4 linked regions of the Homo sapiens genome follow. The main gene of each other region encodes a partner of the protein of the gene in region 4 in a complex. Each region holds a gene or a part of one and is shown on either strand. Other genes may lie near its edges. The genes, in order: RANBP2, NUP205, NUP188 and CETN3.

Region 1 (7,034 bases), on a different chromosome or scaffold from region 4:
GTTTGGCAGAGGCTGGCCATCTGTGAACTGCCCATGCTTTCTAGAATGTCGGAGTTTTGGAGTGTGATGATGCGTCTGTATATCATATCTTTCTAGTCTTTCATTGTGCTTTCATTTGTTAGTCTTCTCTTGTTTTGCCATTTTTCTACTCCCTCACATGTGCTTTTGCCCTTAAAAATATTCTTCGTCTGTAATCTGAGCACTTTGGGAGGCCGAGAGACCAGCCTGACCAATATGGTGAAAATCCGTCTCTATTAAAAATACAAAAATGAGCCGGGCGTGGTGGCAGCGCCTGTAGTCCCACCTACTCGGTAGGCTGAGACAGGAGAATTGCTTGAACCCTGGAGGCAGAGGTTGTGGTGAGCAGAGATTGCACCACTGCACTCCAGCCTGTGTGACAGAGCGAGACTCTGTCTCCAAAAAAGAAAAAAAGAAAAAAAAATATAATTCTTTCTCTAGTTTTTCTTTTTCCAGATGGCTTCTGTTTAGTTTTTCTATGTTCTGTCAAGTTGATTTCTTATTCTGCAGCTGATTCCTACTTCTCAAAGTCTACTTGACAGCTCTTATTTTTATTTATTTGTTTTTTAGAATAGGGTCTTGCTGTGTTGCCCAGGCTGCCATCAAATTTTTGGGCGTAAATGATCCACCTACCTCTGTTTCCTGAGTACTTAGGACTACAGGCAGGCACCTTTGACAGCTGTTAGTTGTTTTTTCTGCCCTTTACAGCTATACTTCATACTTCTGAGTAACACACATATATACTTTTGTTATTTTTAATTTCCTTTCTCCCATTTTAGACATTTTCTTTTCTTTTTTTTTTTTTTGAGACGGAGACTCGCTCTATCGTCCAGGCTGGAGTGCAGTGGCGCGATCTCGGCTCACTGCAAACTCTGCCTCCCGGGTTCACACCATTCTCCTGCCCCAGCCTGTAGCTGGGACTACAGGCACCCGCCACCACACCCGGCTAATTTTTTAGTATTTTTAGTAGAGACGGGGTTTCACCGTGTTAGCCAGGATAGTCTCGATCTCCTGACCTCATGATCCGCCCGCCTCAGCCTCCCAAAGTGCCGGGGTTACAGGCGTGAGCCACCGCGCCGGGCCCCATTTTAGACATTCTGTACTGGTTATTATGCTCCTCCAAAACTGTCCTCAGACACTTTGGTTTGCCCCTCATTCTTTCAGTACTGTTATTGCAGTTTTTGTTTAAATGAATATTTAACATTTATATAAATATAAGGTAAATATTTTTGCATTTGAATTGCCCTTGTTGTGCGGTTTTGTTTTTCCTGGACTGAATAATTGCTTTATTTTTTGGTTTGCTTGTATGTTGTGTTACTACTTGCTTACTTAAACTCAGCAATTTACACCCTCAAATGTGGTCAAACTGGTCACATAATCCCATCAATTGCAGCTTAAAACATTGATTGATTGATTGATTGATTGATTGTCTGTCTACCTGGAATACCCTTACTAACTGACTTCTCCAACCAGGATTGGTTTTTCTTCCTCTTTGCTACACAGCTGTGCTCTTGGGACTTCCCTTTATCATCAGTTTGAGAATTCCTTTCATCTTTTTTCTGAGTTAGACCCTTTGTTTCTTGTATCTCATGTCCTCTTCATTTACTTTCTTTGTTTTGGTGTAGCATAGTCTCACTTGCTTTGAGGAAAAGTAGATGAGAGGTTTTTTTGTTTGTTTGTTTTTGTTTTGGGACAGAGTCTTGCTCTGTTGCCCAGGCTGGAGTGCAGTGGCATGGTCTCAGCTCACTGCAACTTCCGCCTCCCGGGTTCAAGCGATTCTCCTGCCTCAGCCTCCTGAGTAGTGGGATTACAGGTGTGTGCCACCATGCCCGGCTAATTTTTTCTATTTTTAGTAGAGATGGGATTTCACCATGTTGGTCAGGCTGGTCTTGAAACTAATGGTATGTCTTTAAAATGTCTTTACTTAATTTAGTTGATCATTTGGTTATCGAATTCTGAGTTTGAAATAATTTTTTTTTCGCAATTTTGAAAGCATTGCTCCATTTTCTAGAAGTTCTGTTGTTAGGAGTCCGATGAGATTCTTGTTCTTGGTAACTTAAAGGTTTTCTGGAAGTGTCCTTTCAATTGGGAAACTCATTTCTTTCAGTTCTGTAGCATTTCTTGTATTATTTCTTTGACCATTTCTTACCCTTTTTTTAATGACGTTTACCTGAAAGCTGGAGTTTCTCTAATTTTTCTCTTATTCTCCTCTTTTGTTTGTTCTGCCTTTTGAGAGATTTCCTTACCCTTATGTTCCAGGGGAAGAAGATTGGGGAACTCATGGTTCAGTATCTAGACTTTTCCTCATTGTCCTGTATAATCGCGGCCTTCACCCTTGTTGGGACTCCACAGATTTGGAGCTGATCAGATGGGTTTGTTGAGAACAGCTGATCAGATGGGTTTTTGGAGGATTTTAGGGGGAGGGAGATTCATTTGACTGTGCAAGATGGGCGACAGAGTGAGACTCCATCTGAATTAAAAAAAAAATTTAGAACTGCATAGTGAAAAAGTAGGCCACAAATATTAAGTTTTGGACAATTACAATTACATCTCTATCTTACTGTGCAAGATAGAGATGATGTGGCATCTCTTAGGGTCTTACTGTTCCTGTTTTCAGCCCTGCATCAGTTCTTGATATTTGGCAGCTTAAGTGAATTCAGGTATTTGCTTATAGTGACATCTGCTGTCATGTAAAGAAGTACTGCTTGCATCAGATATTGTCCTGTTTACATAACATGGGCTGTGCTCCTTCCTAGCTGTGTATCTTTAAACAAGGCATTTACCTGCTTGAGCTTCAGTTCCCTTGTAAAGTGAGCAGGTTAGAGGCAAAAGATCATATAGAAGAATAATTTGTAAAGTTGTTTAATTATCTTAAGATTGTCTACTTTAATAACATAGTTGGAAGCAAAGAAGGTAATGGAATTATTTTTCTATTATGTTTTGGCATTGTACCTTGAATCTATTTCTTCATTTTGAAAAGGGGGAACTGGCTGGGCTCAATGGCTGACGCCTGTAATCCCAGCACTTTGGGAGGTGGAGGAAGTCAGATCACAAGGTCAAGAGATCGAGACCATCTTGGCCAACATGGTGAAACCCCATCTCTACTAAAAATACAAAAATTAGCTGGGCATGGTGGCGTGCGCCTGTAGTCCCAGCTTGTACCCGGGAGGCAGAGGTTGCAGTGAGCTGAGATCGAGCCACTGCACTGCAGCCTGGCGACAGAGCAAGACTCCATCTCAAAAAAAAAAAGGAAGGGGGGAACAAGCCTTGTTCCTTTACGTGCTGTCCTGACTGCTGTGTATTATTTTTGTTAAGATTGCTGTAGTTCTTTTTTTTTTTGAGACGGAGGCTTGCTCTGTCGCCAGTGCTGGGATTGCAGGTGTTAGCCTGGCATTGAGCAACGTTTTGTAATTTAAGCATACAAGTCTCTCACCTCCTTGTTTACATTTATTCCCAGGCATTTTTTTCTTTTAGATGCGATTGTAAATGGAATTGCTTTCTTAATTTCCTTTTCTGATTGTTCGTTGCTGGTACAGTAGTCCCTTCTTATCCACAGTATTGCCTTACGTGGTTTTACTTAGCTGTGTCACCCGTGGTCCAAAAATATTGAATGGAAGATTATATAAATAAACATTTCATGAGTTTTAAATTGCAAACGGTTCTGAATAACATGGTAAAAATCTCACGGCCTCCTGCTCCGTCCTACCTAGGACACAAGTCATCCCTTTGTCCGACATATTCATGCTGTATGTGCTCGCCACCCGCTAGTTACATACTAGTCATCTCAGTTATCAGATCAGTTGTTGGAGTATTGCAGTGCTTGTGTTCAAGTAACCTTTATTTTATTTAAAATGGCACCAAAGAGCAAGAGTAGCGATGCTGGCAGTTCACATATGCAGAGAGAAGCCATATAGTGCTTCCTTTAAGTGAAGAGGTGAGTTTTTTTGTTTTTTTTTTTTTTTGGCTTAAACAACAGAAATTTATTTTCTCATGGTTCTGGAGGCTAGAAGCGGCAGATCAGGGTGCTGCTGCTTTGGTTCCTGATGAGGGCTTTCTTCCTGGCTTATAGGTTGGCTGGCATCTTGTCCTCACATGGCAGAGGGAGAGTACTGTAGTCTCACCTTGCTTTTTATTATTATTATTTTTTTAATTTATTTTTTTATTGATAATTCTTGGGTGTTTCTCACAGAGGGGGATTTGGCAGGGTCATGGGACAATAGTGGAGGGAAGGTCAGCAGATAAACAAGTGAACAAAGGTCTCTGGTTTTCCTAGGCAGAGGACCCTGCAGCCTTCCGCAGTGTTTGTGTCCCTGATTACTTGAGATTAGGGAGTGGTGATGACTCTTAACGAGCATGCTGCCTTCAAGCATCTGTTTAACAAAGCACATCTTGCACCGCCCTTAATCCATTTAACCCTGGGTGGACACAGCACATGTTTCAGAGAGCACAGGGTTGGGGGTAAGGTCACAGATCAACAAGATCCCAAGGCAGAAGAATTTTTCTTAGTGCAGAACAAAATGAAAAGTCTCCCATGTCTACTTCTTTCTACACAGACACGGCAACCATCCGATTTCTCAATCTTTTCCCCACCTTTCCCGCCTTTCTATTCCACAAAACCGCCATTGTCATCATGGCCCGTTCTCAATGAGCTGTTGAGTACACCTCCCAGACGGGGTGGTGGCCGGGCAGAGGGGCTCCTCACTTCCCAGTAGGGGCGGCCGGGCAGAGGCGCCCCTCAGAAGAGGTGAGTTTTTGACTTAGGAAAGAAAAAAGATCATATACTGGAGTTGCTAAGATCTATGGTAAGAACAAATCTTTTGTCCATGAAATTGTGAAGAAGGAAAAAGAAATTTGTGCTAGTTTTGTTGTGACACCCCAAACTGCAAAAGTTACAGCCATAGTGTGTGATAAGTGCTTAGTTGAGATGGACAAGACATTAAATTTGTGGGTGGAGGACACAAACAGGAAACATGTTTCGATTGACGGCAACCTGGTTTGATACTATTCATCGTTTTGGACATTCACTGGGGTCTTGGAATTTCAAAAATAAGATGTTTGAGTAGCTGTATACTCTTTATCACATGGATGGAACATACTCTGGTTGTATCAGCATTTTTTTTTTTTTTTTTTTTGAGATGGAATCATTCTGTTGCCCACGCTGGAGTGCAGTGGTGCGATCTTGGCCCACTGCAGCCTCTGCCTCCCGGATTCAAGCGATTCTTTGCCTCAGCCTCCCAAGCAGTGGGGATTACAGGGGTGTGCCACCATGCCCAGCTAATTTTTGTATTTTTAGTAGAAAGGAGGTTTCTGCATGTTGGCCAGGCTGGTCTCGAACTCTTGGCTTCAGGTGATCCGCCCGCCTCGGTCTCCGAAAGTGCTGGGATTACAGGTGTGAGCCACCGCACCCAGCCTGGTGTGCATCAGCATTTTGGACTTTGGAGTTTATGTAACCAAGGAGCCAGGCTGTGGACCTCGTTTATTACTTGAAGAATTCAATATTTATTTCTGCCTTTTTGACTCCTTGACTGTAAAATACTGATCTGATCTGTAGAGAGAACAGTACATGGACCAGGGAATCCTCAGTGCCTTAATAGATCCTAAGTACTTACTTATTCTTTCCCATAGAGGCTTACACATGGTAGGAAAAGAGATTTCTGGAATACCTTTCCTCCCCAAAGAAAGCTGGTTTCTTTTGTTTGTTAAGTGAGAGAGTGGTACCACAGGGTTTCCAAGATTTCCAAGGCTGATGAAAATTCTTCTGTTGTCTGCTTGTCTTACTTTCTTGAATTTATTTTTTGTATGTTATGTATTTATTATTTAGAGAGAGGATCTCCCTGTGTCACCCACGCTGGAGTGCAGTGTCACAGTCATAACTCACGGCAGTGTCAACCTCCTGGGCTCAAGTGATTCTCCTTCCTTGGCCTCCTGAGTAGCTAGGAACACAGGCATGCTCCACTATGCCTGGCTATTTTTTTCTCCCTGGAGACAGGATCTTGTTGTGTTGCACAGGCTGGTTTCAAACTCTTGGCCTCAAAGCTAGCCTCCCACCTTGGTCTCTGAAAGTGCTAGAATTAAAGGTGTGACCAACTGCACCCAGCTTATTTATGATGATGATGATGATGATGATGATGATGATGATGATGATGATGTTTGGGAGATGGAGTCTCGCTCTGTCGCCCAGGCTGGAGTGCAATGGCACGATCTCAGCTCACTGCAACCTCTGGCTCACTGCAACCTCCACCTCCTGGGTTCAACTGATTCTCGTGCCTTAGCCTCCCGAGTAGCTGGGGTTACAGGCACCCACCATCATGCCTGGCTAATTTTTGTATTTTTGTCAAGACGGGGTTTCACCATGTTAGCCAGGCTGGTCTCAAACTCCTGACCTCAGGTGATCCGCCCACTTCGGCCTCCCAAAGTGCTGGGATTACAGGCATGAGCCGCTGCACCCAGCTCTATTTTTTGTTTTGTGATAGGAAATTATAAAACATGGAATTATGCATTTGTCAGCCTTTAAAAAAACTTTTAAGTGAATGAAAGTGGCGTATTTGAACATCAACTTAGGACAGATTTTTACTACTTTTGAAAAAATGTTGGAAAATATTTCTGTATGAAAAGTAAAACAACTTTTAATTTTTTTTAGAAGTCAATGAAAGGATTCTATTTTGCAAAGCTGTATTATGAAGCTAAAGAATATGATCTTGCTAAAAAGTAAGTACAAACTGTAACATGTATTTTTTTTTTAAAATCAATGCCTTTTCTCATTTTCTTCTTTGAAATAGGTAAAAATATGTTCTTAGTAGTTCTTCCTAAGTGTATTCTGGAATAAGGGATTTATCACTCAGACTGATGCTAAGGACCAGCCTAGATTCCATTGAGATTGAAACCGTAATTAGTGTTTTCTGCATGCTGCTGCTTTATACCAAGGGCAAGAAATTGTTTGGCTTCAAATACTTTTTCTAAAAATTGTCTTCTGTTGGAGTAAAAGAGGACCATGCCTATATCTTAATTTGTTTTTG
Region 2 (4,371 bases), on a different chromosome or scaffold from region 4:
TAGTATTAACCACTATTTATATAGAATTCATATTATATTAGGTATTGTAAGTAATCTAGAAATGATTTAAAGTATACAAGAAGATGTATCTATATTATATGCAAACACAATGCCATTTTATATAAGGAACATGCATGCCAAAACATAGGTTTTGGTATCCGTGGGAGCCCTAGAACCAGTAATCACCAGATACCAAGGGACAATTGTATTGTCAACTTACGTGCAGAAAAGAAAAAAACAAAAAAAAGGAAAACCTAAATAATTTTAGGAAAAAGCTTGACTTTTTCAGACATTTTCACAGTATTGAGTACACTATTCTATAAGAGCATGGCTATATTTTAGTAACCCTGAATATTGTTAATAGTGTAATGTAGCTACAAAGGGTGAAAAAATTAGAATTTTCAGACTATGCCTTTAATCTGGCATTCAGAATAATATCTCTATGGGAAAATCACCACTGTTGAAGGTTTATTTGTTAGATTCCTGATAATGCTGATCAAAAGATAAAAGATCAAAAGATTAACCATACATTTGTTTTGTTTTTTTAAAAAGTATTTATTTTTTACTAGTGAGGATGGAACTAGGGGAAGAAGTTTACAGAAAAGATGTCCATATACAAAGAAAGAAATAGCAAAATATTTTTGGTCATAATTTAGAAAGAAACTAATCTATAAAATGGAGACAATTCTCCCCAATTCATCTCTCTCATAGAAGAGCATAAGCACGGGCTCTCAGTTCCTTGATATCCTCAAGAGGCCACGGATACGTCTGACAAGAGCCTGTATGAAACTATATCGAGATCGAACTTTTGAATATAATCCTTCAATGTCCAGAAGTTTCTTTTGTAGTGATTCTCCAAAAGCGTTGATTGCATCAGCCTGAAGCTAGCGGTGACACAAAAGACATTTTGTTAAAATTGTTGTCTCAAATATTTCTTTTATTCTAAGTCTTCCAATTTAAAACACTTTAGAATTTTTGTAATGTGGTTCTTTCAATGTAAATACTTTTGAATTTTTGTAATGTGTTACTAAATTAACTAAACATTCACATTTTCTACCTTAGAATTTTTTGGTTTAATTCTCATGTTTTTCCTGCTTTCTTTTCTTGTATAAATTTAAAAACCTGCTTTAAATAGCAATGAATGTTGATGCTGATGCTGATATACTAACATACACACAAAAACATTTCCTGAAGGGCCATACAAGAAGTCAGTAAGACTGGCGGGGGAGGGAGGGAAGGAGAATGCAGGGAAGGAAGGGAGGGAGGGAGGACAGGAGGGTAGGTGGGAAAGAAGCTTTTACTTTTTACTTCATTTTGCAATTTTTAAAAACCCACTTGCATGCTTTTGTTTTCAAAAAATATTAATGTGGGGATACACCTGTTATATGCTTTAGAATTCATATATATTCTAGAATGCATATGTAGTTTCAGATGGATCTTTTTGATGTTATACTAAAAGACTAAAATTAAGTACAATATTAGATCAATCTACCTGTTTTCAGTTTTGCATTAAAATCACAACACAGAGTGTGAGATTATTTATTAATCCTGCATTTTTTTCTAGCTTTTTCACAAAGCAGTCTAAATGAAATAGTAACAGTTATTACTTCAAAATATATTTATTTTTGTTGTCCTAGCTACTCAGGATGCTGAGGCGGGAGAATCACTTGAGCCCAGGGGGTTGAGGCTGCAGTGAACTGTGGTCACACCACTGCATGCCAGCCTGGGTAATGGAGTGAGACCTTGTCTCTCAGACAAAACAAACAAACAAACAAACTTCTGAATAATCTTCTTTGGCTAATTTTGCACATGGCCTCAATTAACACTAGTTCTCCTAAACAAGCCTAGCCACAAAACGAATTCCTTTTATAAAGTCACTAAGGGGCGAATGTAGTCTGGATTGGGATGGGAGCGTGGTATTCATGATATCCAGCAAGCTGTGCTTTGGAGGCTGCTGTAACTGCACCTTTCATTCCCAACCTTGTTTTAAGAAAAATAGCAAAAAGAGGGATTTGGGAGGAGCAGAGGCTTTATCAAATCATGGCTAAGGACATTCAGATGGCTAGCAGAGGATCTAGCTGTAATTCATTTTCCCTAACATCACACACCCTGATACCTGCTTTGTTAGAAACATAACTTTGCTATTAGTTTAATATGAGGTTTTCATTGTAATTGTTTTTGGCATACTCTTCATTCATTCTAACACTACTGATCAACAGGTTAGTAAGAGCACAGTGTTGTGTACTATGGTCTATGACGGCGGGATTTGTATTGGCTGCTCTCAATCTCACCATTAAATTATTTCCTGAAAAATAAGTGCTGAGTGATACTTTGTACCTAAAAAGTTCTACAAAGCTAATCAAAAGACATCAGGAGTTTCCAGATCATAATGCCTACCAATCACGGAATGCTTACCATGTTCTAGGTACAACACTAGCAGCCTCACATACATGAAACCTCACTTAATTCTGACAAAACCCTCTGAGGTTGAATCCTCCTATTTCTTAGATGAAGCAATTGAGGCTCGGAAGTTAAGTAAGTTGTTCAAAGTCATATAGCTGTTAAAATGGTCAAGCTAGAGTTCAAACCAGGTGTCTGTAAGCAACCCTGAAAATCATAATCTTATTAACATACCAGGCTTTCCTTTTTACTTACTTACTTACATTCATTCATTTATTTATTTATTTATTGGAGACAAGGTCTTGCTTCACTCTTTCATTCATTTATTGGAGACAAGGTCTTGCTCTGTTGCCCAGGCTGGAGTGCAGTGGTGCAATCACAGCTCACTGCAGCCTCAGTCTCCCAGGCTCAGGTGATTCTCCCACCTCAGCCTCCCAGGTAGCTGTGACTACAGGTGCATGCCACCACAGTATGCCAATTTTTTTTTTTAAGAGACGGGGTCTCACTATGTTGCCCAGACTGCTCTCAAACTCCTGGGCTCAAGCAATCCTCCCGTCTCGGCCTCCCAAAATGCTGGGATTACAGATGTGTACCATCACACCCAGCCCTTTTACTTTAATGAAGAAAAATAAAAGAATATGAGAATAGAACCTTACCTGGTCTAAATCATGTTGGCTCACTATAGCCAGCCCACTTCTAAAATCTAGATTGGTTTCTGAGGCGAAGGAATCTAGAGATAAAAAAACAGAGTCATACCGGCTGTGCAAGTACCTATCTACCACACAGTGGAGGAACCTGATGACAATGAATAATAACAATAGCACCATGAAAAACACGGCTCAAGATTGGGAACTCAATTTTCAACTTTTAGCAAATGGAAGCCCCTAGAAAGCATTTCACTGGTCCAGACCAGGGTTCTCAGCTTTTCTCTATTTCCTTCCACCTAAGGGATCCAATATATGGCCATCAGTCACAGAGGCCCACTCCAGCAATAAGAATCAGCATAATAGCAGACCTCCTCCATTCTTCTAGAGCTGGATCAGCCCCCTAACTGCAGCAAGAAGCTAAGGAACAGCTGATGAGCAGGCTCTAGAATATTCTTATGCTCAGCACAATGTCCCGTGAACAGAAAGTAAAATGCAAGAAATAGCTACGTCTAGTGACTAAACAGCTCTTGATTCACCCAATTCACTCTAAGTAATCTGGAAACAAAAATAAAAAAAAACTGGTACTAGCTTTTCAAGGCACAAATAGGTATTTATGGTTCATTAATTTTTAGCAGAAAGTTTACCTTGCAGTCTTCTGCTTTTAAACAAGGTTCTCGAGGCAAATAAGGAATCTTGAGAATCCGTGGGCATGCAATGTAACAAGTAGTACTCCAGATGGCGCCAAAGAATAAATAGGCAGGTCTCTATGATAACTATACCAGAGCTCAGATTAAAGGAACATAATCTCATCAAATATGTTTTACACACCAGTTTCGGAGGAGAAGAAAAAAGGACAGACTGCACTCACTTAATGAGGTACCCACAGCCTCAGTCTAACAGACAGGGTCTCACTGAAGGCTCCTCAAGAGGAAGCAGCAAGGTGTGCTGAGGAAAGAGGTGGGGACCTTGGGGTCCTGTGCCAGCAGTCTCATGTCCCTACCTTCTTCCCTAACAGAAAGTGCCCATGTATTTTATCAGTATTACCAGCTACTCTAAAAGATAAGAACAAAAACTATGATTTGGAAATACATTAGGCATTTACTGGGAAAAAATTAAGTTTATCTCCTTCCACCTGGTTTTGGTGCCCAAATAATATGAGAATAAGTGAACAGTTCCTATATTTCAAGGTCATCATTCAAGTGCATGATTTCATAAAGGATACAAGAACAAAGGGAAAGCAGTTTAGCTCGATTGTTGATCACCTTCACCAAGCGCCGTCTTGCTAGAACATATTTCTGAGCAGTGGAGATTTTATCAACACCAG
Region 3 (7,034 bases), on a different chromosome or scaffold from region 4:
GGGTGCAGTGTAGGCTGGTGGAGAGGGGTAGGTGGGCAGAACAGCACTGCCCTATCTTTGCATATGCCGGACAAACGCCTGCACCAACTGGATCAGAGGCTCCTGACTCTCAGGGCTGGCTTTGGAGAGAGAGGTGGACTTGCCCTGCGGCGAGGGGAGGACACCAGTGGCAGGGGAGCTGGGGGCTCCCCGGCGGAAGTAGCGCGAGAGGCTGGACAGCAGCGTGCTCTACAAGAAAAAAAGTGGCTTGGTGAGGCTCAGCACATCTGGCTACTGTTCTGACCCTTGGGGGTTGCCAGGCAGGACCCCACAGGGCTCTGGCCCTATTGGTCCAGCCCTCCGTATCCCTATCCATCCGTACCAACTCAGAGCTGAGCTCCTGCTTCATCCGCTGTTTGTCCCGGGGGTGCACAGCCGGGTCCCTAAGGTACCGCATCGCCTGAGAGATGAGCAGGTAGAAGCAGTTTTCCATGGTAAACATCAGGAGGGACCTGGGAGGAGACACAGGTTTTTGGTACTGCTGCAGAGGGCCAGGCTGGCCAAGCTTGAGAACAGTGGGCCCATGACTGCCCCAGCCCCTTATCAAATCCCAGAAAGAGCACTTACTTTAACGTCCTGGTCCCTTCTGCCTGTGTGCTGAGCCCCACTGCCTGGGTGAGGGGCTCCTTTTTCTTGTCCAGCTGAAGAGAAGCAAGGGTAAAAAACTAAGACAACAGGAACAGCTCCCACTTACTGAGAGCTTCCTACTTGCATGTCCTGCACTAAGCAAATTTAATCAGTTACCTCATTTAATCCTCACAGTAATTCTCAGAGGTGCTGTCATGTTCAGTTTACAGAGAGGAGCAGGCTTGGGAGGCTAGGTACCATGCCCAACATGCCCAAGGTCAGCTGGGAAGTGGCAGGCAGGGGGAGGAGCCGGGGGGAGAGGACAGTGTCTGACAGAACCAACTTACCTCTCCAAGCATGTTGAGGGCCACATTCACTGTGGCCAGAAGGGTCCCGAAGGAGGGGGCCACTTCGGAGTCAAAGGTGGGAGTGGTAAAGCTCAGGGCAAACAGGAAGTTGTATTCAGCAAGGTCCAGGGACTGCGAGAAAAGACAAGAGCCATCCAGGACCCAATTAAGGCCCCAGGTAGCTCTCGGTACACAGCAGAGCAGAGCCTTTAGGGGAGGTGGTGCTGAACAGATGATGGGCAGTACCTGATCCAGCAGAATCTGGCAGACATCTGGGGTGAAGTGGCGCAGGGCTGCCAGCGTCTTGCTGAGGATCTTGAGAAGGCCATACTGGACTGTGTGCAAGGCCTGCTGCTCTGATGCCTCTGTGTCAGCAGCGGGCTGCTTTGAGGAGGAGGGGGCAGCAGAAGCAGCAGACGGTGGCCTCTGGACTCGCTGGGCAACAGCTGAGGGGAGGCCATCCCCATTTTTGTTCTAAGGAGAGTCAAGAAATGAAGGTGGAGCTTGGGAAGCTAGCGTGAGGTATTCCAGGACCTCATGGCATAGGACGCTTACCTGTAAGTAATGCTGCAGCATCTTTCGACTGTGCAGGAGAGAGGTACATGCCTGGCACAAGTAACCCAGGTTGACCTGGGAGAGACACAGGAGAGATGAGCGGATTCTCTTGTCAGCAGCCCAGTCACCCAACCAGACCAACCCAATAGCCCTCCATGTAACACCCATGCGCTCCTCACTCGCTGCTGCTCTTCTCTCCCTCCTTCCCTCATGCTCCCCTTCTCTCCCTCCTTCCCTCATGCTCCCCTTCTCTCCCTCCTTCCCTCATGCTCCCCTGGCCACTTTCCAGCTTAAAGCCCCTATAGCCACTAAGTACTCAGGGCTACAAACTTGGGCCAGCAGGGCTCAGGACTGGACTGTCTCCCTGAGACCCAGCTAGGTGCCTGGTATATTGTAAGGTCCTAAAGTAAAGAAGATGAGGCCGGGTGCGGTGGCTCATGCCTGTAATCCCAGCACTTTTGAGGTCGAGGCAGGCGCATCACGAGGTCAGCAGATCGAGACCATCCTGGCTAACACGGTGAAACCCTGTCTCTACTAAAAATACAAAAAATTAGCCGGGCGTGGTGGCGGGCGCCTGTAGTCCCAGCTACTCGGGAGGCTGAGGCAGGAGAATGGCGTGAACCCGGGAGGCGGAGCTTGCAGTGAGCCGAGATGGCACCACTGCACTCCAGCCTGGGCGACAGAGCAAAACTCTGTCTCAAAATAAATAAATAAATAAAATAAGATGAGGATTATGGCTGATTCCATTTTATAGGAAAAGAATAAAAGGTTACAAGTAACAAGTGACTTGGCCAAGGTCATACAACCAGCAGATAAGAGAAGCCTGCCTGGCTCTGGAGCCTGTGTTCCTTCCTCACCCCTCCCTTCTCCAGCTGGTTCCCAGCTCCAGTTGTGTGTGTTTTTTTGGTTTTGTTTAGTTTAGTTTTTTTTTTTTTTTTTTGAGACGGAGTCTCACTTTGTCACCAGGCTGGAGTGCAGTGGCGTGACCTCGGCTCACTGCAACCTCCACCTCCTGAGTTCAAGCGATTCTCCTGCCTCAGCCTCCCGATCCTGAGTAGCTGGGACTACAGGCGTGTGCCACCACACCCAGCTAATTTTTGTTATTTTTAGTAGAGATGGGGTTTCACCATGTTGGCCAGCCTGGTCTCGAGCTCCTGACCTCATGATCCTCCCGCCTTGAATTCCCAAAGTGCTGGGATTACAGGCGTGAGCCTATTGCACCCGGCCATTTTTTTTTTTTTTTCTTTTTGGGACGGAGTCTCGCTCTGTCACCCAGGCTGGAGTGTAATGGTTCGATCCTAGCTCACTGCAACCTCCGCCTCCCAGGTTCAAGCGATTCTCCCAACTCAGCCTCCCGAGTAGCTGGGATTACAGTCACGTGCCACCACGCCCAGCTAATTTTTGTATTTTTAGTAGAGACAGGGTTTCACCATGTTGGCCAGGCTGATCTCGAACTCCTGACTGCCTCCCAAAGTGCTAGGATTACAGGCGTGAGCCACCATGCCCGGCCCCAAGTGTATTCTTAAGGGATCTGAACCAAGATCTAACTGATAAAAGTCCAAATTCTTAACCTACATGGCTGCCCTTGACTATGGAAGGAAACATTTAGCCAGAGTAAGCACATGACAGCAAACCCTGTGCTCCCCAAGGGAAAAGCCCCCGTTCAGGAACATCCTGCAATTCACTAGGAGTGCCCCAGTGAGACCTCACAGCCTCCCTGTCTCCAAGCATTACCCCAGACTCCAAGACACCATCTTGGGCCCCCACCTGGATATCACGCATGAGCTGAGGCAGGTGGAAGTGCCACTCCTTCATGAAGTTAGAGAGCTGCAGAATAAAACCCACGGTGTGGTCCGCCTCCTCCAGGCAGGCCAGACTCTGCACTGTCCTCACTGCGTTGAGGCACTGGGAGGAAAGCACACATCAGGGAAAGATGGGGATGGCTGAGGGACCTGACATACCCACACCTACCCTCCTGTGGAGAGGCAACGTCCCAGGCCCCCAAATGCTGAGTTGGCAAAGAAATGGCTTAGTGGTACAACCAGGATTCTGACCCGAGACCGTTCCCGTCCTTCAGCAGACTAGCTGGCCAGTGAGCCAGCAGAGTACTTAGAGCATCTCAAAAATGAAGGCATCGACAACCCTCCGCTACTGAGGCCCAGGCTCCACACCCACCTGCCCCATGAATGGCCCAGTACCTTTTTTACCCTGAAACTCCCACCCCTGCAATGCAGGCAGCCCCTCACCTGTAAGGTCCGCTCCTGGTGGACACCCACGAAGTCCAGGGCCTCAGGCAGGAAGTTGTAGCGCAGAGTTTTGAGCAGCTGCTCCATCAGGGACATGGACAGGCGGTAGACTCCTGGCCAAGAGGGGGCATCCAGGGACTTCCGAGAGGCACTAGGTGTCTAAGATACAAACAGCAGACAAGCTCAGGAACCCTGCTGAGAGGCAGGACCTCCTTGTAGTACAGCAACTAAGGCAGCCCAGCTGCGCTGAAAGGAAAAGATCTCCCAGAATAGACACAGCCACTGTCTGGCCACCAGGGCCAGAAAGGGGCCAACACCAGCAGATTCAAGGAAAGAGCACCAGGCTGAGACACAAGACCCAGGGTTCCAGACTCAGGTCTGCCACTGACGAGCTATGCGAACCTGGACATGTCACTGCCCTGCTCTGGCCCCTACATACTTCCTCTAAGGGGTAGCTGGGCTAGATGACCAAATACTTCACGACTCTCATGAGAGAGAGAGGTTCAGGTGAAGACTACTCTTTTGAAATTAGGAGGTATCTGTTAAACTAGAAATAACCAAGGGACACAGAGGGCAGGGTGCTGAGGCCCCATCAAGCCCCCAGACCACCCACTTCCCTTCTCCCAGTCCTGGTCTGGTGGTGCAGGGGTGGAGAAGTCACAATGACACACTGTCTTTGGGAATGACAGGAGAGGACAGCTGCCTTGGCTAGAGGCCTGGTCCAGGGATGTGTTATCAATCTGGTTTAGTCTTCCTCACACCTGCAATGGGAAGAATCCATCCCATCTCCCAGAGGTAGTGCACAAAGGCCAGGCGGTGCCTTTTAGTGGTGAGTTTCTCTTGCTAGAGATCCGCCTGGGGGCAGGGAAGATTCCTCACCATCAGTGTATTAGGCAATTTAGAGGAAAGCAACTTCCGGGGAAAGGTAGGGGAGGACACTTTTCAACTGGAACTGTAGGGTGGTCAGGCTGGGCCTCCTGGCAAGCTCCTGACACTCACCTGTGCTGTGCCGTTGGTGCTCAGCTGGTACACACTCAGAAGGGGCAAACAAATGCTCTGGGTGATGCCAGCTCCAGCCACTGCTGTGGCTCCCTGGGAGGAGGGAAAGACAGGAAATGAGATGGAGCCTGCCCCTGCCCTGCCTAGGGTAGGTAGGGCTCTCAGGCTAGATCACAGCTTCTGGGATTGTCAGAACCCACCCAGGCAAGCAAGGACGCTCCCTCCTGCCTTCGGGCTGGCCTCCTACCTGCTGAGTGCGAGCCAGGGTGAGGAGCAGATGCAATGTGGCCTCAGTGAAATGCAGGTTCTGCTTCATGCGAAGGCTCACCTCTAGAGTGGTGAGGAGGGTGGGTAGGATGGGGAGCCTGCGGGTTACCTGCAGCCAGGAGTCACCATCCTCGTCTACCTCACACAGCTCCTTGGCCAGGTGCAGGCCCAGGACACACACCTGCCCAGAGGCAAAGATGAGTAAAAGGGGGAAGAAGAAGAGGAGGAGGAAGAGGACGACAGGCAGCGGTGGGCCTGGTTGCCCAAGACCTGCTTGGTTACACACATTGCTAAGTGAGCTTGAGTAACACAGAATGCACACTCTCTCCCACCCTGCCCCTCTCCTATGTCCAGCTCTCAATGAACAGCAGCAACTCCAGCCAATCTAATGAGCAACCCTAAACTGACCAGAGCTACCCCCGCCTCTTCCCTCCCACCTCCCACACTGCCACCACCCTTGTCAGAGCCACCTCGTCTCATGTTGGACACTCCAACCAACTCTGCCACATGGAGTCTGAGGGACCCCTACGACCCTGCCCGATGCCACCTCCTGCTCTGCTACTGCAACCATCTCCTAAATAATCCTGCTCCATCCTCTCTAATCTATCCTTGTACCAGTGGCCTTTCAACCTTCTTTTTGGCCATGACCCAGAGTCATAAAGACATTTTTTTTGAGATGGAGCCTCGCTCTGTCCCCCAGGCTGGAGTGCAGCGGCGCGATCTCGGCTCACTGCAACCTCCGCTCCTGGGTTCACGCCATCCTCCTGCCTCAGCCTCCCGAGTAGCTGGGACTACAGGTGCCCGCCACCACGCCCGGCTAATTTTTTGTATTTTTCATAGAGACAGGGTTTCACCGTGTTAGCCAGGATGGTCTCCATCTCCTGACCTCATGATCTGCCCGCCTCGGCCTCCCAAAGTGCTGGGATTACAGGCGTTAGCCACCGTGCCCGGCCCATAAAGACTTTTTAGACTGTATCCTCATGTACACGTTTACAGTTTTTCACTAATAATACCTACCCTAATGTCACACAAAGCACAGTGATATTTTCTTAAACACTTTATTCTACTTTATTTTAAAAAAATGCTGGTTGTGGCCAGGCGTGGTGGCTCACGCCTGTAATCCCAGCACTTTGGGAGATCAAGGCGGGCGGATTACGAGGTCAGGAGATCGAGGCCATCCTGGCTAACACAGTGAAACCCCGTCTCTATGAAAAATACAAAAAGTTAGCCGGGCGTGGTGGCAGACACCTGTAGCCCCAGCTACTCGGGTGGCTGAGGTGGGAGAATGGCGTGAATCTGGGAAGCAGAGCTTGCAGTGAGCCAAGATCGCACCACTGCACTCCACCCTGGGCGACAGAGCGAGACTGGTTGTAACAAAATGTGCTAATTTCAAGACTCTCTCTAATAGGTCATGATCCCACAATTTGAAAAATACTATTCAATACTGCATCCAGAGTGATCTTTCTTGGGCACGCCTGTAATCCCAACACTTTGGAAGGCTGAACTGGGAGGATGGCTTGAGGCCTGGAGTTTAAGTCCAGAGTGATCTTTCTAGAGTAAAAATCAGATCAACTTTTTCCCCTGCTTAAAAGCCTTACATCATTTCCTATTTCACTTCGGATCCTGCATTTGCCCGCGGCTACAATCTCTAAGTCATTGCTGAAAAGGCACCTAAGTCCCAGTTCAAGTCAGAAGTGAGACTAAGTTCTCCCTGCACTTCTCTCCTGCAGTACAATGGGCTGCTTCTGCTTTTCTGCAGTGTCTGATCTATTAACCTTTCCCACCAGGCCGTGAACTCCAGAAGTGCAGCGACTATCTGTCTTGATCACTACTTATCCCCAGAGTCAGGCACAGAGCTGGCGGGCAGTGGAAAGGACGGATGGCCTTCTAGGGCACTGTCTCACCCCATCACGCTGGTCCCTGTGCCGGGACCGAGAACAGTCGTCAGTCTCCATGCTGTCCTTGTCCTCTGTGGCACTGCCTAATGCCAGACTGTGGCGGGTCTGGTCGAAGA
Region 4 (7,034 bases):
TTTTATAATAAGACAAGTTGCTCATGATAAAAAAGGTTAACATTTAAAATATGGATTTGATTTTTCTAATTTCAGGTTTATCTCGGGGTTTGGGGATCTCATTTGACATTTTATTGTCAGACTAAAAGTTGACAGTCACAGCTTTAATTCTCATCTAATATTTAGTTGATTTCACAAATGAATGCCTTTGTGATTATGCAGGTTTATTAAAATATATATGTTTTTAAACTGTAGTGACAGACTGGATATTGGAAAGAGATCCCCATGAAGAAATACTCAAGGCATTTAAACTATTTGATGATGATGATTCAGGTAAAATAAGCTTGAGGAATTTGCGACGTGTTGCTAGAGAATTGGGTGAAAACATGAGTGATGAAGAACTTCGAGCTATGATAGAAGAATTTGACAAAGATGGTGATGGAGAAAGTAAGTTTTAAGTGAAACGTATTTTCCAGGTTTTCCTGATGCTACACATGTAATACATTTTTCTAAAACCAAATGACTTGCAAGACTTTTTTGTAAACTTAACTGCTTCTTGTAATGGACCTTCTGTCTAAATAATTCACATATTCAATTTAGAATGAAGCAGATCTCTAAAACCAATTATACTTCAAGAAGGTCCTTCACTTTTCTCTGAAGGTGAAACCACCAAAATTTCAGCCTTTCAATATAATTTCAGTCTTTAATGGCTTCTCCCTCAACCTACATGCTAAGTTCTAAGTTCTATTGATTTTCCCCTTCAAATGTTTTGAATCTGTTTTTATCTTTGTCCATTGTGGCTGTCCTAGTTCAGGCCCTAATTTCTAGTTAGGAATGTTATAATGGCCTCATTTATTCTTGCCTTGGCTGCCTACTGGGTGCAGTGTCCTGCGTGTTGACTGGTGCTACACAATGAAAAAGGCAGATGTGGTTCTTGCTTTCACTTTGCAGTCTCTTGTAGTGTCCTAATTGCCCTTTCGGCATATAAAAGTCTCTAATCTCTTCTTCAGTCTCTTGGTATCATTCTTTTCCTAAAATATACATTTGATAATGCCATTTCTGTGTTTAGACACTTGAAACGATTCTTCAGTGCCTACAGAGTAAAGTTCAAAGCCTTCTATGATCTATCCCACCTTGAGTAACTGATTTTACTTTCCAGTGTATTCTTTCACTTTTCTTCTTTAACCCTCACCTCCTGTATGTACACATTTTGTCAACATATGCTATCCTGAAAACACATTTTTATGCTATTCGTTTCATCCTGCTGTTTCTTAATCTTAGAATGCTCTAATTGTTAATTTCTGCCTGCTAAAATGTGATTCATTCTCTCAGGTAAATATTAAACACCATCTTTTTCCCAAAAGCTTCCCATAACGCTCTATGAATCATGAGACTTCCATTGAAGGCCTATAGCATTTAGAGAAACAAATTGTTTTGATACTTTCATACACTTAATATGGAATCTTTTGGCTGGAAACTAAGTTTTGTTGAGATAAAAACCACTTTATTTGTATGTTAAACTGCTAAAGATTAGACCTTGCTGTCTTTTTTGTGGACTTTAGTGTTCTTCTCTCTTTGTGACTTTTTCATGCTTTTCAGTATCTAAGAGCAATGAAATTTTAAAAATATTGGGTATATAGAATAATAAACATGGTGAATGTGAAGTTAAAGGTAAATAAGATGTACTACAAGATAGACATAAAGCTGTGGTAATGATACAGAAAGAGTCACTTCCCCCTGCCCCCTCAACAGCATATATAAAATAAAACACAGCACATCTTTTGGAAAAAATGAAAGGAACGTTTTGAAAAGCCAGAATGGATAATCTTTTAAATAATGATGATGTTTTTTAACATTTATTTAGCAGCTACTATATTGGATATTAGCATTAATTATGTCACTTAATTTCCATAATAACTTGTAAAGTAGATATAGTATTATACCTATACATGTGTATAATAGATGCATATATAGAGATGAGGAAGCTAAAGCTTTGAGAGATTATTAATCTGCCCAGGTTATCACAAAGCTAATACTGTACATGGTAGAGCCAGAACTCAAAATCAAATCTCCAAAATGGCAAAGAATGTGCTTTTAAACGTAATATTGTATTGCCTTTCGGGCTATGAAGTAAAATATTAACTAGACTTCTATGTTTATGGAGTTTTAAAAATTACATGCTATTATAGGAAGCAGTGTATTAGCAACATACTCAGTTGGAACTTCCAATTCTAAGATTTGCTTTTCCCCTTCAAAGCCAGATGGTCTCTAAGGTACTTAATCTACTTAGTTCTGTAAAATTCTTATTGTTAGCAACTTGTAATAAGATTTGCTCTATGAAATGGTTGATGTATGAAAAATTTTGTTAAAGAAGGCAGTATAAAAGGAAACAAAGTGTCATATTTTCTTGATTCAATAAATGTTTTACCAAAGCTTATTTTAAGCTAGGCATTGTGGTAGATTTATTAGATATAGGAACTTGATATAAGATATTGTTAATAGAGAAGGTTATAAAATCAAATGCACAGAGATATAGAAGATTGTCTTTTAATTGTCTACAAGACAATTAAAGTAAAGTAGCTAGTTTAATTTCCTGAGCCACTTTCTAATTTTTACTTTCTTGGGTTTAAGTAGTGTGTTTTTAGGTATGAATCATGGAATTCAGTTGTCCCTTGATAAGCACAGGGGATTGGTTCCAAGTCGCTTAAGGATGCCAGAATCTATGGTGCTCAAGTCCCTTGTATAAAATGGCATAGTATTTTCATATAACTTTCACATATCCTCTTGTATACGTTAAATCATCTCTAGATTACTTATAATACCTAATACAATGTAAATGCTATGTAAATTGTTATACTTTATTTTATTTGTATTATTTTTTATTGTGTTATTTTCCCAAATATTTTTCATCTGCAGTTGGTTGAATCTGCAGATGTGAGGAACCTGTGGTTACAGAAGGCTGACCGTATTTTAAATACTTTTGAAATGCTATTATAGTTTAAAGTTTTTGTATATAAACAATATAAAAATTAAGTGTTTTGTGGTTTTCAAACTTATATATGAAACTTAAAATTTGCAGTTTGAGTATTGAAATTTTACAGATCAAGAAAAAGTTCTAGATCTTTAAGTAACAAGTACTTTTTGGATTTTGAATATTTTAATCATGGATGTATTACACTGTTAAAATGATTTGTAATCAAATCATTCTAAGGCTGTTTTATGTTTTTTCTCTTAATACAGTTCTTAAGAACATACTCTTGCTTCCTATTTGGTCTAGATGCCTCAGTCTAAATCGGGAGTTCTTCAGTGAAGGTGCACACTGGCTAAACTGATTAATAATTTTATATATTTGAACTGTATTTATTGGAAAGAGAGAGGGATCATAGCTTTCCTAAGATATTCAGACATGGCTATTTAACTGCAAAGGTTAAAGATCACTACATCAATTTGTAAGATTCTTGAAAGTAGTTTGGAGTATTACAGATTTTGTATTACGTTCTTACCATGTTTGTCATAGTGTTTTGTAGATGTTAAATACTGATTGCATGGCTTCATAGTTCCCTGTCAGCTTCTGGAGGGTGCATTTTTCCTAACTCATAGCTTATTTCTGTGAGGCATACACTATTCTTTCTTTGACTGTATTTCTGATGGTATTCTCCCACCCCAGCTCTCTTTCTACTTCCTTTCCAAATTCTGTATTTTTATTTTAGAGCCCAAGTAATGATTTACCTTTACCTAAATTTTTCTTATTAGTAATAATTTTTACCATTGTGAAGGATTTTTTTTCAACACTGATTTGGTCTTTGTTTTAATAATAAATAGTATTTTGTGTTATAAAACATTTGTTCTGTTTCAAGTATAAAAACTGACTAACATAGTTATCAAAACCGGTTTTCTATGTGGTTTCTAGAACCAGTGCAGTATATATTCTTTTCATTCCCTATGACCATGTTTTATCTCCTCAACATTTTTTAATTGGTTAATTTTTTCTAACTGTTCATTATGAATATTCTCAAACAGAAAAATTGTCAGACTAGTACAATGAACACCATTGTACCTTCTGCCTAGATTTAGTAATTAGTATTTTACCGCATTTGCTTTACCTGTCGTGTGTATATTTTTTTCTCAATCATTTGAAAATAAATTTCATATATCAAGAACTCAGTCTTTAGGCCAGGCACCATGGCCCATGCCTGTAATCCCAGCACTTTGGGAGGCTGAGGCAGGTGGATTGCTTGAGCCCAGGAGTTCAAGACCAGCCTTGGCAACATGGTGAAACCTAATCTCTACCAAAAATACAACGATTAGCCAGTCTCATAACCCGGTCTCTAAATTAATTAATTAATTAATTAAATTTTAATAATAAAACAAAAACTTGATCCTTTAATATTTTAGCATATCCATCTACTAAGAACAAGGATATATCTTTCATAAAGCTATGATACCAATGTTACACTTAAGAAAGTTAACAATAATTTTATAATATCATATAATATCTTTCTCATTTCGGTTTTAATGTATTCCAGAATAGGAAGCCTGGTGTCTGTTTTGATATATTACGCAACACTTATTGTGGTGTTGGCATTCACTAGCCACTTAAAAATGTTTGATTCAATGGAGTATTTTCATATAATACCTTCTATGGTAAATAAGAGTTAAACAATCTAAAACATCATCTCATAGTTCAGTGTTTTCAGATGAAGGAAATGAGATGCAGAGCTGTTCTGTGCAGAGCTGTGACTAGAGACCAGGTCTTAAGTCTCAGTGTAGTTTTCTTTTGGCATTATCAAAATTATCATTCATAATTTATGCATTGTTTAGGTATGTATTAAGTCTTAGGGCTAAATGCTAAATACTTACCAGAAGTATCTTCTGAACATTTTTCTTAATTGATACGTGCGCATATGTCGGGTTTTCAAAATTATATTCTATAAGATTATCTGATTTCTTATTTCTAGGTTGCTGTCTTAAACATTATGTTTTATAAATTGGAGATTCTTACTATATTTATAATTTTGGCAAACTAAAAATTAGTCCTTATCCATGATTATTTTCTGCCTTTACATCTATATAGTTACTGGATTACTTTGGTGATTAAGATTACATCTGTAATCTTTTCAAATTGCCATTTTTATTGATACCTTTGAGGTATGGTGACCTGGTTTTAATTATTCTTTAACATAGGCTTTTAAGTATATAAAAGTTCAAAAAATAATAATTTAACTTCTTTTTATAATTTTATTATATTTTCATTCTTTAGAAATCTAATTTACATGCATGATATGTTCAAGCTTACTTGTAAAGGAAGGATTTGCTAAATGAACTAGTAGAATAAAGATTATAAAGAGGGTTGTTTAAAGAACCTTGAAATGTCAAGCATTTAAAATGTTTTAGCAAGTATGTACAAATATGACTGTGATTGACTTTTTTGGTAACATTATCTTTTCCCCAGTTAATATTATAGAATACTAATTTGTAATGTTTATCACATTATATGTATTTTTGCATCCAAGAAGTTACATTTAATAAACATGTTCCACTTCCTAACAAAGAAGTAAAAGCAAAAAGCCATGTCTTAATGTAATAATTTTGCATAATGTAAAATTTTTTAAATACTTAGTGTAAAATGGTAGTCGTGGATTCTGAAAAAATAAAATGTTTATATTTCTGACTATTTCATTTTCTTTCTTACCACAGTAAACCAAGAGGAGTTCATTGCTATTATGACTGGTGACATTTAAAGAATTACAAGGATAAACACTAAGAATGTTGCAGTTACCATCTTATATTCTATTTTTGTGCCTGGAGCCATGTGAAAAAAACCAACTTAGTTCTTTTATCCTAAAGGACCAAAAATAAGCATCTTATATATCTGTATTTTACTACTGTTAAGTTTCTTTGTATGAACTGTGTTGTTAGTACTCAGATAGTTTAGCTTTGTATTTATAATAGAGCTTTTATATAAAGTTTTAAAAATTGAATGTGTGATATGTGTTCTTTGAAGGTTTTTTAATTTAACATTTATAGTCACTTTTTAGTGCACACATTTTCCAGACTTTCGTTAATAAAATATTTATTTTATTAGAATTTTAAAGTTTGGTAAATTTGTTTTTATTCCTAGTATCTGTTAACCCTCAAGAGTGGATTTCTTAAATCTTCCCTTTATAATTTTACTAGTTTCTGAAACAAAAATTGAAATACAATTAGCAATAGAGTGGCACATTTTTCCATTACCTAACATTTCATCAATTTTGACATTCTATATTTTAATACAAGCTGACTCAATATAAGCCTAATTCCTTTTTTAAGAGTCCTGTCTTTGAGTTTAGAAGGAATAAGTATTGTGCAGATAGACCCATTTATCCTTGTGTATTATGTTTCTTAACTTGGTATCATTGTAAGTATGAAAGTTAATTTTCTTCTGAATATTTCCTTAAACAAATTGAATGAATACAATTTGAATTTTCTAACTTCTTGACTGAGAGATTTAAATTTTGGAATTTTGATTTGTTAAGGTAATTATCACTCAATTACATGTCACAGTGATGAAAATAGAAAACTGTAAGCCACAGAAATAATTTAAGTCTATGTTTTACCTATATGAAGGAACAGTCTGTGATTCACCAGGAAATAGTAGAGACACAGTTTCCAAGTACTGGTGGGCTCTTCTGCCTTGTAGAAGTGTATGTTAGGGGGAAACAAGTGGTTATGGAGATCGATCATAGAAAAAAATAGTACCTATATGGATCCTTCACTCATATCTAGTACTCGGTGTTATGGGCTCTCCCAGGAACGGAATTGAGTTGTCTATTTCAGCAATCTTTCTTTAGAATTCTTGTTTTAAATTTTTAAGTTTAAAGTGTAGTATCATTTGAGGCGCTTTAAATGTTGTGAGCCTTTTAAGAGTATTACATTAAGGGTTGTCCACTAGAAATTTAACACAAAATCAGTAGGGAATACTATAGCAGTAGTGACATTTCAAACAGTTATCTAGGAAGCAAGTGTATATTAAGTCATTCTTGTATTGCTACGAAGAAATACCCAAGACTGCATAT

Evidence for each region.
Region 1: CETN3 (region 4) and RANBP2 share a complex: the UniProt entries of both Homo sapiens proteins name them as parts of the nuclear pore complex.
Region 2: CETN3 (region 4) and NUP205 share a complex: the UniProt entries of both Homo sapiens proteins name them as parts of the nuclear pore complex.
Region 3: CETN3 (region 4) and NUP188 share a complex: the UniProt entries of both Homo sapiens proteins name them as parts of the nuclear pore complex.

The regions. Positions count from the first base shown.
Region 1 is NC_000002.12:108,722,474-108,729,507, forward strand, and holds part of RANBP2 (E3 SUMO-protein ligase RanBP2), read left to right. Parts: intron 1-6,658; coding exon 6,659-6,726; intron 6,727-7,034. UniProt on the Homo sapiens protein: E3 SUMO-protein ligase which facilitates SUMO1 and SUMO2 conjugation by UBE2I. Involved in transport factor (Ran-GTP, karyopherin)-mediated protein import via the F-G repeat-containing domain which acts as a docking site for substrates.
Region 2 is NC_000007.14:135,644,917-135,649,287, reverse strand, and holds the end of NUP205 (nuclear pore complex protein Nup205), read right to left. Parts: coding exon 4,270-4,371; intron 3,821-4,269; coding exon 3,692-3,820; intron 3,131-3,691; coding exon 3,057-3,130; intron 885-3,056; coding exon 732-884; 3' UTR 535-731; downstream 1-534. UniProt on the Homo sapiens protein: Plays a role in the nuclear pore complex (NPC) assembly and/or maintenance. May anchor NUP62 and other nucleoporins, but not NUP153 and TPR, to the NPC.
Region 3 is NC_000009.12:128,999,696-129,006,729, reverse strand, and holds part of NUP188 (nucleoporin NUP188), read right to left. Parts: coding exon 6,925-7,034; intron 5,202-6,924; coding exon 5,001-5,201; intron 4,847-5,000; coding exon 4,754-4,846; intron 3,914-4,753; coding exon 3,755-3,913; intron 3,414-3,754; coding exon 3,276-3,413; intron 1,584-3,275; coding exon 1,509-1,583; exon of another isoform or gene 1,433-1,508; intron 1,428-1,432; coding exon 1,200-1,427; intron 1,086-1,199; coding exon 954-1,085; intron 681-953; coding exon 607-680; intron 492-606; coding exon 362-491; intron 251-361; exon of another isoform or gene 229-250; coding exon 52-228; 3' UTR 1-51. UniProt on the Homo sapiens protein: Component of the nuclear pore complex (NPC), a complex required for the trafficking across the nuclear envelope. Required for proper protein transport into the nucleus.
Region 4 is NC_000005.10:90,392,750-90,399,783, reverse strand, and holds part of CETN3 (centrin-3), read left to right. Parts: intron 1-234; coding exon 235-426; intron 427-3,219; coding exon of another isoform or gene 3,220-3,291; intron 3,292-5,676; coding exon 5,677-5,720; 3' UTR 5,721-7,034. UniProt on the Homo sapiens protein: Plays a fundamental role in microtubule-organizing center structure and function. As a component of the TREX-2 complex, involved in the export of mRNAs to the cytoplasm through the nuclear pores.